Linked DNA regions of Homo sapiens. The protein of the gene in region 1 purifies or fractionates together with the protein of each later gene. This does not show direct contact. Each region holds a gene or a part of one and is shown on either strand. Other genes may lie near its edges.

The links.
Region 2: the proteins of MYPN (region 1) and HOMER1 purify together in Homo sapiens (affinity purification with mass spectrometry; one large-scale study listed by BioGRID and IntAct). This does not show direct contact.
Region 3: the proteins of MYPN (region 1) and ITPRID2 purify together in Homo sapiens (affinity purification with mass spectrometry; one large-scale study listed by BioGRID and IntAct). This does not show direct contact.

What each region holds. Positions count from the first base shown.
Region 1 is NC_000010.11:68,115,988-68,119,487, reverse strand, and holds part of MYPN (myopalladin), read right to left. Parts: intron 1-3,500. UniProt on the Homo sapiens protein: Component of the sarcomere that tethers together nebulin (skeletal muscle) and nebulette (cardiac muscle) to alpha-actinin, at the Z lines.
Region 2 is NC_000005.10:79,402,521-79,406,259, reverse strand, and holds part of HOMER1 (homer protein homolog 1), read left to right. Parts: intron 1-3,739. UniProt on the Homo sapiens protein: Postsynaptic density scaffolding protein. Binds and cross-links cytoplasmic regions of GRM1, GRM5, ITPR1, DNM3, RYR1, RYR2, SHANK1 and SHANK3.
Region 3 is NC_000002.12:181,919,183-181,922,921, reverse strand, and holds part of ITPRID2 (protein ITPRID2), read right to left. Parts: intron 3,627-3,739; coding exon 3,476-3,626; intron 2,326-3,475; coding exon 2,260-2,325; intron 975-2,259; coding exon 510-974; intron 1-509.

The DNA.
Region 1 (3,500 bases):
TGTGAGCCAAGATTGCACCATTGCACTCCAGCCTGGGCAACAAGAGCAAAACTCTGTCTCAATAAATAAATAAATAAATAAATAAATAAATAAATAAATAAAATAAAATGCAAAGGTGTTGGAGGGCAAAGATTTGTCTACAAAGGTGTTTATCACATGATAATATTTAAAAATTGTAACCATGTTCAGTAATAAGAAATTAGTTAATTAAATTATTACTCATTAAATAGAACTATATGGCTATTTATTAAATTTCATGGAACAGTGAATAATACACAAAATAGTATATGAAAGTATAATTGATACCCCAATTGAAAATCTTTCTCATTTGTGCACCAACTACATGTAGTAACAGTTAAAGATATATGAAATAAGGTGCAAAATGTTATTTGAAAATGTAATTAATATACCGAAAATCCTCATTTGTAACTCAACTATTTCTTTAGCCTCGTTTAATTTTCTGTTTCTGTTTAGATGGGGGGGAAATTAAGTGCCTTATAAATCAGGATGGCTTTCTCTCTATTCATTGGACATTACTGTTTATTGTGGTTTTTTAAATTTCCTTCCTTCCTTCCTTCCTTCCTTCCTTCCTTCCTTCCTTCCTTCCTTCATCACTCTTTTCCCTCCCTCTCTCTCTCTTTCTCTCTTTCTTTCTTGACAGGGTCTCACTCCCTCACCCAGGATGGAGCACAGTGGCATGATCATAGCTCACTGTAGCCTTAAACTCCTGGATTCAAGCAATTCTCCCTCCTCAACCTCCCAAGTAGCTGGGACTACAGCCACGCACCACCACACCTGGCTAATATTTAAATTTTCTGTAGGAACGAGGTCTCTCTATGTTGCCCAGGCTGGTCTCCAACTCAAAGAACCTCAAGTGATCCTCCCACCTCCATCTCCCAAAGCTCTGGGATTACAGGCATGAGGCATCGTGCCTAGCCTGTATATTGTGTTTTAATGTGACTTTGTCTTTTACTCTTTATTTTGAGATAGCTTTTATACTGAGGCAACATGGAATGAGCATTGGCCTTGGTACCAGATAGATCTAATTCCAAATTCTGCTTCATCTCGTAACAATTATGTAACTCTGAGAAGTTAACTTATTTGAGCTTTGGTTTCTTCATCTGTAAAACATGAAAAAATCTATTTCCCAGGGGAGTAAGGATTAATAACATCAAAGGCAAAGTCCTTAAAATAGGGCTTGCCACTATAATGGGTATTCAACTGATGTTTGTAAAAAACAATGCTTTGGTGAAGGTGATGTTAAAGTTGAAGAACTTTAAAAAAGTTTATATTTGTGGTGGAAATAGAAAATAAAATTCTTAGATAAGTTTTTTTTTAAGAAAAGAAGCCAATTGAGGTGTTAATGTACCTGTTCTTATGTTTATGGTTATGATAAATTATTACAACAAAACTTTCAGGTATTCAAAATAAAGATTTCTTTAATGTTTTAATGTAGTACTTATGACCTAGTACTTTGGCATTAGATAGAACTGGGTTCAAATCCTAGTTCTGACACTTCCTAATATCCTCGTATAAACTTGGGAAAGTTTAAACTCTATATGCCTCAGTTTACTCATCTGTAAAACAGATATAATAGTAGTAGCCATATCATAGGTAGAAGTGATGATTAAATGTGCTTGGGATTTAGTAAACATTCAATAAATGGAAGTTACTATTACTATAATAATAATAATTATTATTATTATTTAACAGCTATGGCCATGTATCATGGCCTCCATTTTATAGATAAGAAATGGAGGCAGAACTAGTGAAGTGGCTTGATCCGAGGAAAAATTTGAAGAAAAACCAAAGTCTACATTCATAGTTAATTCAGTGTATCTGTATTCTATTGAAATACAGTCTCATGAATTAACTGTGTTGACTTCAGATCTTTGTATTCTCTTTGCTTGGACTGCTTCCTGTGCCCACCTCTTTTCACTATCCTATCAGGCCTAATCCTACATGGTCTTTGGTTCCTAGCTGAGACATCACTGCCCTGGGATTTCTTCTCTTCCCTGAGTTGGGTACCTCTCCAATGTGCTCCCAAAGCTCACTGTCCTTGACACAGTCTCCAAACACAGTACTTATCACAATATATGAAGTGTATTTTCTTCTCTGTCTCCTTCACTATGTTTTGTACACCATCGTCTCTGCACCCACATAGCACATAGAAGGTGGTCAATAAATTTTTTTTTTTGAATTTATGTGTTCATTAGAATTTTCTGCTAACTCTACTATTAGCTTTCACTTTTTTTTTTTTTTTAAGACAGAGTTTCGCTCTTGTTGCCCAGGCTGGAGTGCAATGGTGCGATGTCGGCTCACTGCAACCTCCACCTCTCACGTTCAAGCGATTCTCCTGCCTCAGCCTCCCAAGTAGCTGGGATTACAGGCATGTGCCACCATGCCTGGCTAATTTTTGTATTTTTAGTAGAGACAGGGTTTCACCATGTTGATCAGTCTGGATGGTCTTGAACTCCTGACCTCGAGTGATCCACCTGCCTCGGCCTCCCAAAGTGTTGGGATTACAGGTATGAGCCACCATGTCCGGCCTATCTTTCACTTTTGATTGTAGGATAAAATAGGACAGATAAAGGAGGTCAAAGAAAACTTATAGACACAAAGAAAAACTATAAACTGGTAAAGGCAGTCATAACTTTAAGATGACTTTCAAGTGAAAATTTATTTATGATGGATAAAATAACTGAAATCATGCTTTGTTTTCTTTTTTCTTTCTTTTCTTTCTTTTTTTTTGAGATAGACTCTCGCTCTTATAGCCCAGACTGAAGTGCAATGGCACGATCTCAGCTCACTGCAGCCTCTGTCTCCCGTGTTCAAGCGATTCTCCTGCCTCAGCCTCCCAAGTGGCTGGGATTATAGGCACCTGCCACCATGCCCGGCTAATTTTTGTATTTTCAGTAGAGATGGGTTTTCACCATGTTGACCAGGCTGGAATGCTTTACTTTCATACCAGAAGTATCAGAGAACATCTGATTATAATCAGAAACCTGGGTTTGAATCCCAGCTCCAACACTAAATAACTTTGTTTTCTTGAGAAAGTCACTTAATGCATCTGAATCTCAGTTAACCTCATCTGTCAAATAGGACAACAATTCTATCTTTGAGGATTCTCAGATGAAAATGCATATATAAATTGTTAAACTGATAAAATATTAGCCAAAATAAAAAATATGAAAATTATTTTTTTAAGCATTAATTTAAAAACTTTCTATTTTAAGCATTAATTTTATAACTATTATAAAATTTGTACTTAAAAAAAATCATAAGTGCTCTTATAGGTACCCTATAATTCATTTATTCATCCAATAAATATTTATTGAGCATCTACTATGTGCCAGGCACTGTTCTAGGCACTGTGGATTCAGTGGTGAACAAAAGACAAAGTCTCTATCCTAATGGAACTGACATTCTAGTAGGGAAAATATTAATGTTGGGAAGAAAAATAAAATAGAAAAGGGGGATTGAGAATAATGGAGGAGGAA
Region 2 (3,739 bases), on another chromosome or scaffold:
CTTGAGCTTCCTTGGGTCTAAATACCAACCAAATATGAAAATACTGGATAATGCTAGGATGAATTTGAAGAATCTAGTAACCTACTCTAAACATATATTTCAACAGTCAAGCGTTTTAAAATAATTGATGTGGTGTTATAACTACCTAGACTACTCATATAAAAAGTACTTCTGCCAATCGGTATTAACTTGTAAATTACGCCAAAACAAGGCAACTAGTTCAGGAATACCAACCTTTTCTTAAACAGGTTTGTTGTAGATTCTCCATGTTCCAGGTCTACAGTGTTTTATAGATGAAATCCCTGTTACCGTATATGCATGCCTGATAAGTTTAAAATGGGAGTCAAGAAACTCCATATGATTCTACTACCCAAAACTAGTGTGAAATTCCATCCCTGATGTGAGAGCTAAAATATTTATATTTGAGGTTTTTATTAGTGTTGAAAGTTTTATTAAAATTAGTGTTATAAAATTTACTACTCATTAATTGATTTGATCTGAGGTTAGCCTTGCACTTATTTCATAGTGAATACCTTTACTTTTCATTTAGTGCATTGACTAAGCTTGCACAGATTGGCAAGCACCAGGTTTTGCTGGTAAGTGAAAGGATGGGTGTAATAACTGGAAAATACTTGTTGGAGAAAACTTGAATCAATGAAAGGAAAAAATGCAATCTGATAGATTCTGAATATAGAAAAAATTGGACAAAAATTCATAGAAAAAAATGAGAATCTGATTGAGAAGAAGAGCTCATCACAGAAAAGCCAGCTTGATTAGAACAGGAAATATAATCCATGTACTTCAATTCAGGAAGATGGGGCAAATTGATAGGTTACATAATGTGGGTTTAAAAAATTATGTTTATTAGTTTGCTTGAGTTGTCCTAAAAAATGCTGTAGACTGCATGGCTTAAACTATAGAAATCTATTTTCTCATAGTTCTGGAGGCTAGAAGTCTGAGATCAAGGCGTCTGCAGGGTCATTTCTTCCGAGGCCTCTCTCCTCGTCTTGTAGATGGCTGTCGTCTCTTTTTATGTTCGTGTGTCTGTGTCCTAATCCCCTCCTCTTGTAAGGACACCATTTATACTGGATTATGGCCCACCCTAATGACCACATTAAACCTTAATTACCTCTTTAAAGACTCTGTCTCCAAATACAGTCATACTGTGAGATCCTGGGAGTTAGAACTTCAATATATGAGTTTTGGAGGGACACAGTTCAGCCTCACGCACAGAATCGAAGAGGCAATCAGGACCGGGCACGATGGCTCATGCCTGTAATCCCAGCACTTTGGAAGGCCGAGGCGGGTGGATCACCTGAGGTCAGGAGTTAGCGACCAGCCTGGCCAACATGGTGAAACCCTATCTCTACTAAAAATATTAAAAAAAAAAAAAAATAGCTGGGCGTGGTGGTGGGCACCTCCCAGCTACTTGGGAGGCTGAGGCAGGAGAATCGCTTGAACCTGGAAGGCGGAGGTTGCATGAGCTGAGATTGTGCCATTGCACTCCAGCCTGGGCAACAAGAGCGAAACTCCATCTCAAAGAAAGAAAGAAAGAAAGAAAAGGCAGAATGTCAAGATCCTCTTGAACAGTACTGTTCAGTAGAACTTTTTGTCATGATGAAATGTTCTGTTATCTTTGCTGTCCAGGGTAGTAGCCACCAGTCATGTGTGGCTGTTGAGTGCATGAAATGTGTCTCAAATTCAAAGCTGAATTTTTTACTTTAATTTTGAAGTATTACATTTAAATAGCCACATGCTAATATTTGGATAATACAGATCTTGACTGATCTATTTATTTGACATATAAAGAACTGAGAACCAAAGTGCTTGAGTGTTGGGTCCGAGGTTACCCAGATAATTACTGAATACTTGTGATGTAAGCAGTTATAAAATGCTTGATGGATTTTACTGTCTAGTGACTATAAAATAAAACCCACATAAATATAATAGAAAAACACCCTCATTTTAAAATTATTTCTCCTGCTATAAATATGTGGTAATCCATTTTACTTTATAATTGTGTGATTTTGACAAATGGATTTTAGGAGTAAATAATTGTTGTTTCTTCCAGTTAATTTTTAAAGGTGTTTGCTATTGACATGTAACAAGTGTTTAAATTAGTTCACTAAGATGTCAATCGTCAGATTGAAGTTTCCATTTAAATAAAACGCATCTCTATAGGGGAAAAACTGGTAGGTGGTTTAAAGAAAAATCTATAATTCAGTTAGAGCAGGTGAATCCATGCATGCTTTTTTCAGAAGACATGAATCTGAAAAATCATTTCACAAAGGAAGAATAAGAAAAGAGCTTTCCTTTTCAGGATAGAAATGGATTGTTAAGTTAATAGCTTAGCTTGTTGCTTGATTCTATCCTTTCATGTTTTGATGATATTTTCTCACTTAGTAAACTTTAGGAATATTTTTAACTTTTCATTTTAAACTAATTTTAGACTTATAGAAAAATCACAAAAACTGTACAGAGTGCCCGTATACACTTCACACAGCTTCCCTTAATGTTAACATCTTGTGTAACCATAATACAATGATCAAATCCAGGGCAGTAGCATTGATACAATACTACTAACTAACCCTCAGTTTTCACCAATGTTCCCTTTCTGTTCTAGGAACCTACCTAAGATCCCACCTTGCATTTAACTGTTATTTCCTGTTTCCTTCATTTTCTTCACATGTTTGAAGAGTTTCAGTTATTTTACAGATTGTCCCTCAGTTTGGGTTTATATGATATTTTCTCATTGTTTGACTGAAGTTACGCATTTATTGCAAGAATACTACAGACACAATCTTGTGTCATTCTCTGTACATCATATCAGGGGGTTCGTGATGCTAATATGTCATATTTCTGGTGATAAACTTTAGAAATCTTGGTGATGAAAACTATGCTTTTTAAATAAAATATATGCTAAAATTACTATAAAATATCAACCCATCAAATTTACCCTAGAATACAAATGATTTATCAAACCCCCAAAAAATGGTGATTGAAGAAAGCTATAAGCCTCACTAGTTAGTTAATGGGATGAGGTTAGTAGAATTTAACTAATAGAAATAAACTTCAATAATGAGAAAGAGAAACAACCTTTTTCTTTCTAATGAGGCAATTCTTCATTGGAAAGTTAGGAAAGGAATTTTCAAGAGGAGTCTTTCCAACTAAAAGAATTGTCTTGTAGTAGAAAATTGTTTTAGTTGAGGTACTTAACTGTAGTAACTTATCAAGTAGAATATTAAATGAGGAAAAACGGTGATTGCTTTAGTCTTCTTCTATTTATGACACTGGAATTATATCAGAAGTCAAGTCTTTAGAACCAGTTTGTAGGCCTAGCCTTTCCTATGAAATCAGTTTATTGTAGCAAATGTTTGTATTTTTGACATTTTAAGGTCCTGAATAAGATGAAATAAATCAAAAACAATTTCAAAAGAAATACTACATTACATATCCCAAACCTTATGACATTTAAGCATCCTCATATGTTTTCATTAAGGAATAACATTGTACTTTAGGGTTTGACACACGTAAAAAATGTAATACATTGTTAGGTTTTTTTAATAGATGTTTTTCAGGCTATAATGTTTATTCCTTAAAAGAGAATGGGTGGAAACTCTTCTGTAGATAACTGTATCTGTCATAATGAAGGTTGGAAACATTCCACGTTAAGCCTGGTACTTGAGTACTTTTTATATTTCTTCACTTGCCAGGTTTTCTTTACTAGGAATATTTTGGT
Region 3 (3,739 bases), on another chromosome or scaffold:
GAGATGGAGTCTTGCTCTGCTGCCCAGGCTGGAGTGCAATGGCATGATCTTGGCTCACTGCAACCTCCGCCTCCCAGGTTCAAGCAATTCTCCTACCCCAGCCTCCCGAGTAGCTGGGACTACAGGCACATGCCACCACGTCCAGCTATAAAATGCAGTTTTTAATCCTCGAAGAGATCTAAACTGTAAATCCTCATTTTGTAGATGTGGAAACAAGAGGTCCAAAGAGTACGTCATGTTTATTTTGAGTCCTTCACATATCTTTTTCACCATACTGAACACAGAGAATTGTAATTATTTCACATTAGAGTATGAAATTTGCAGAAATGCCATTACAAATATATCTTAATTGACACAAACTTGATCAACAGGAAAGCTAATTTAAAAGCTCTGTGAAAATTATTGAATACAGTGAATCAAAAGAACATTCTGTAAATAATTAATATTCAGACAAAATCTCCTCTAACATATACCTCCAAATAAATGAATGAAACACAGATTTTACCCACCTCCCGTATGACTTGCTGCAACTCATCTTGCTCCACATTTTTATGCATTTCCTCAGCAGCTGGCATTGATGGGAGTTTTCCATGCCCTTCTTCCACTTCAGATTTAGGTCCTACAACTTCTGGGGCTCCTTCAGCTGCATCAACTTCCTCAGAACTTTCCAAATCTGGAGGTGTCTGCACAGAGCCTGTTCTAGAAGGAGCTGTTGGCGTTAGAGCCACCGATGCTCGGAACACTTTCTTCCTTGCCACTAATGGGGTTTTGGATTTGCCCACTGAGGCAGTAGAAGGTACTCCAGTTCTTCTGTTAGCATGAGAGGGACCAGAACATACAGAAGATGATTCTGATGTTGCTTGGGAAAAAACAGATTCTGAGCTTTCTCCAGGAGGAATTTCAAATCCCATTTCTCCAAGTCCCAGGCCCAATTCAGACTTCAGGTATGACTGCTCCTGCATCAGTTCAGTGACCTGGAGATCATAAAAAAATGTTATTCTTCTCTCTTGGAATTAAGATTGGTAGCTAAAAAGGTTAAAGTCCTGGTTGTCATTATTGCCTAAAATCATGTAATTTGTAAAGACATAAATCTATTCCATTAATTTAATAACTACTCAATTTTATTTGCAAAAATGGTAAGTAAAATTTAAATTCCTATTGAGATGAAGCAACAAAACAGGTAAACAGAATACATAGTAGGATGAAATTTTACTTGTTACCACCAAAGTGTCCAAATCACTTGTAAGGAAGAGTAACTAGTGAAAAATAGTTACTCATAGTGCTTTTGCCCCCAAATGAACCAATCTGTCTAACACAATAAAGACAGATTTCTGTTAAAAACGTGGTCATGTTACAGCTCTAACTACCTAAAGAACCAGGATCAAACTGTGAAAGCACATGTCTCCTGAAATGTAAATTAAAAATCAATTTTCTTTTTTTTTTTGAGATGGAGTCTCACTCTGTCACCCAGGCTGGAGTGCAATGGCTTGATCTCGGCTCACTGCAACCTCCGCCTCCCGGGTTCAAGCAAGTCTCCTGCCTCAGCCTCCCAAGTAGCTGGGATTACAGATGCCTGCCACCATGCCCAGCTAATTTTTGTATTTTTAGTAGAGATGCGGTTTCACCATGTTGGTCAGGCTGGTCTTCAACTCCTGACCTCAGGTGATCCACTTGCCTCAGCCTCCCAAAATGCTGGGATTACAGGCATGAGCCACCACACCTGGCTTATTATTTTTTAAAGACAGGGTCTTGCTCTGTCACCCAGGCTGGAGTGCAGTGGCACAATCATAGCTCACTGTAGCCTTGAGCTCCTGGCCTCAAGCAATCCTCCCGCCTCAGCCTCCTGAGTAACTGGGACTACAGGCACATATCACCATGCCTGGCTGATTTTTAAATTTTCTGTAGAGAAAGGGTCTCATTTTGTTGACTAGGCTGGTCTCAAACTCCTGGCTTGAAGCAATCCTTCCACCTCAACCATTTAAATAAAGTGCTGGGATTACAGGCATGAGCCACTGTACATGTTTTTATGGTGCATTACCTCCTTTAGTCAGAAAGATAAATCACTATTGCAATTCAGGTGGCTTTCTAGTGGCTTCAGACAGCAATGGACTTTCAAAGGTGAAAGTCACTTCCAATCAACAATAATTTATCAAATTATGTATTTAAAATAAACATATATTTCATCTAAACTAGGGAAACTATGTGTCTGAAATGTTGTATCATTCCCTTCCCCAGTGATTTAAGAGGAAAGAAGCTTACTGGTTCCATTACATTCAATGGAGAAGGGCATGACAAGTTATCAGCGCTTCTACTGCCACACATTCCCTGAAAAGGTAAGAACAATATATATATGTATATGTGTGTGTATATATACATACATGCATATATAATTATAATGTACATATATATTTTTTCAAATCACAAGACTTTTATAATAAAATTAATTGGCTAATTAGTGCCTGGAAGCATCCCTTTATGTCACAAAGGTTACTCTCAAGTGTCACAGATCCCATAAAATGCATTATTGTGAGTTAAAACTGATACAATATGCAAAAAGGATGTTCTAGTTCTCCCGTCACCAACATACACTTCTCAGAATGATAAATCAAAACCATGTTGAAAAGTACATTCATTAGCAATACAGAACATCCTTAGTCTATGCTATACATATATGTGTTTATACACCATTGTTTATTCTACTTCATTTATAGTATATACACACATAATTGTATGTGTGTATATTCATCCATTTCTTTTTAACAAAATCAAATACATTGTTAAGGTAACAAAGAATAATTCACTATTTCAGCATTTCAAAGCAACATATTCTACAACTTCAAAGATATTTGCAAAAATAATACAACTGTTGAAGTTCAAATGTTATGGAAAGAAACATTAGAAGTATGAAAAGTGGTACAAAAACATGTTTCTTTTTATTCTCTTGGATATATATCTATATATTTAGGAAAATACATATATGTATGTGTATGTATATATATGTATGAAAATATACAGGTATCATTTGATTCCTTTAAAAACAAATGGAAAAGAATCCAAAATAAAGAAAAAGTTTAAAAGGAACACTTTTTTATTTAAAGGCATGAAAGAAAAAAAAACAGCAAAATATGCATCTGTGTTCTCTGCAGTTACATGCAACAATTAAAATTTACATTAGTCATATGTTAATTCACTAGCATTTTTCCTTTAAAAACCCTCAACTTTCGTATAAGCCCTTATTCTTTCCTGTTATTAAAATTTATCATTAAAAATTTTCAACATATTTCTAAATATACTATTTATGACAATTATTACAAATTGTACATTCAACTGATTTGTGGGAAAGCTCCTTAAACAGTATGCATGCTTTTAATACCATTAAAATAAATGACTTGAAATGAAGGCACACGTCCTAAATTATTGGAACATTATAAATAAACCTTTGGTGAAAACTCCGACCACCCTCCAGGTAGCGTACCATGAGTGCGGAGGAGCGGAAGGGTGAAGGCATGCGCACAGCACGAAGCTGCTCCTCCAGGCCCAGCAGGCGCTCCTCCAGCTGCAGTTCCAGGTCCTGAAGTTCCATTCGGACTGAATTTCTCAAACCCTGGAGCTGATCAACTTCAAACCTATTGGTATGGTGAAGGGCACAAAATTGGAAAAATGCAGTTTGGAGATTCCTAATCACAAATCTTTCAACAACTACTATATGCTAACAGAAGGCATGGAAATCTCAGGTTCT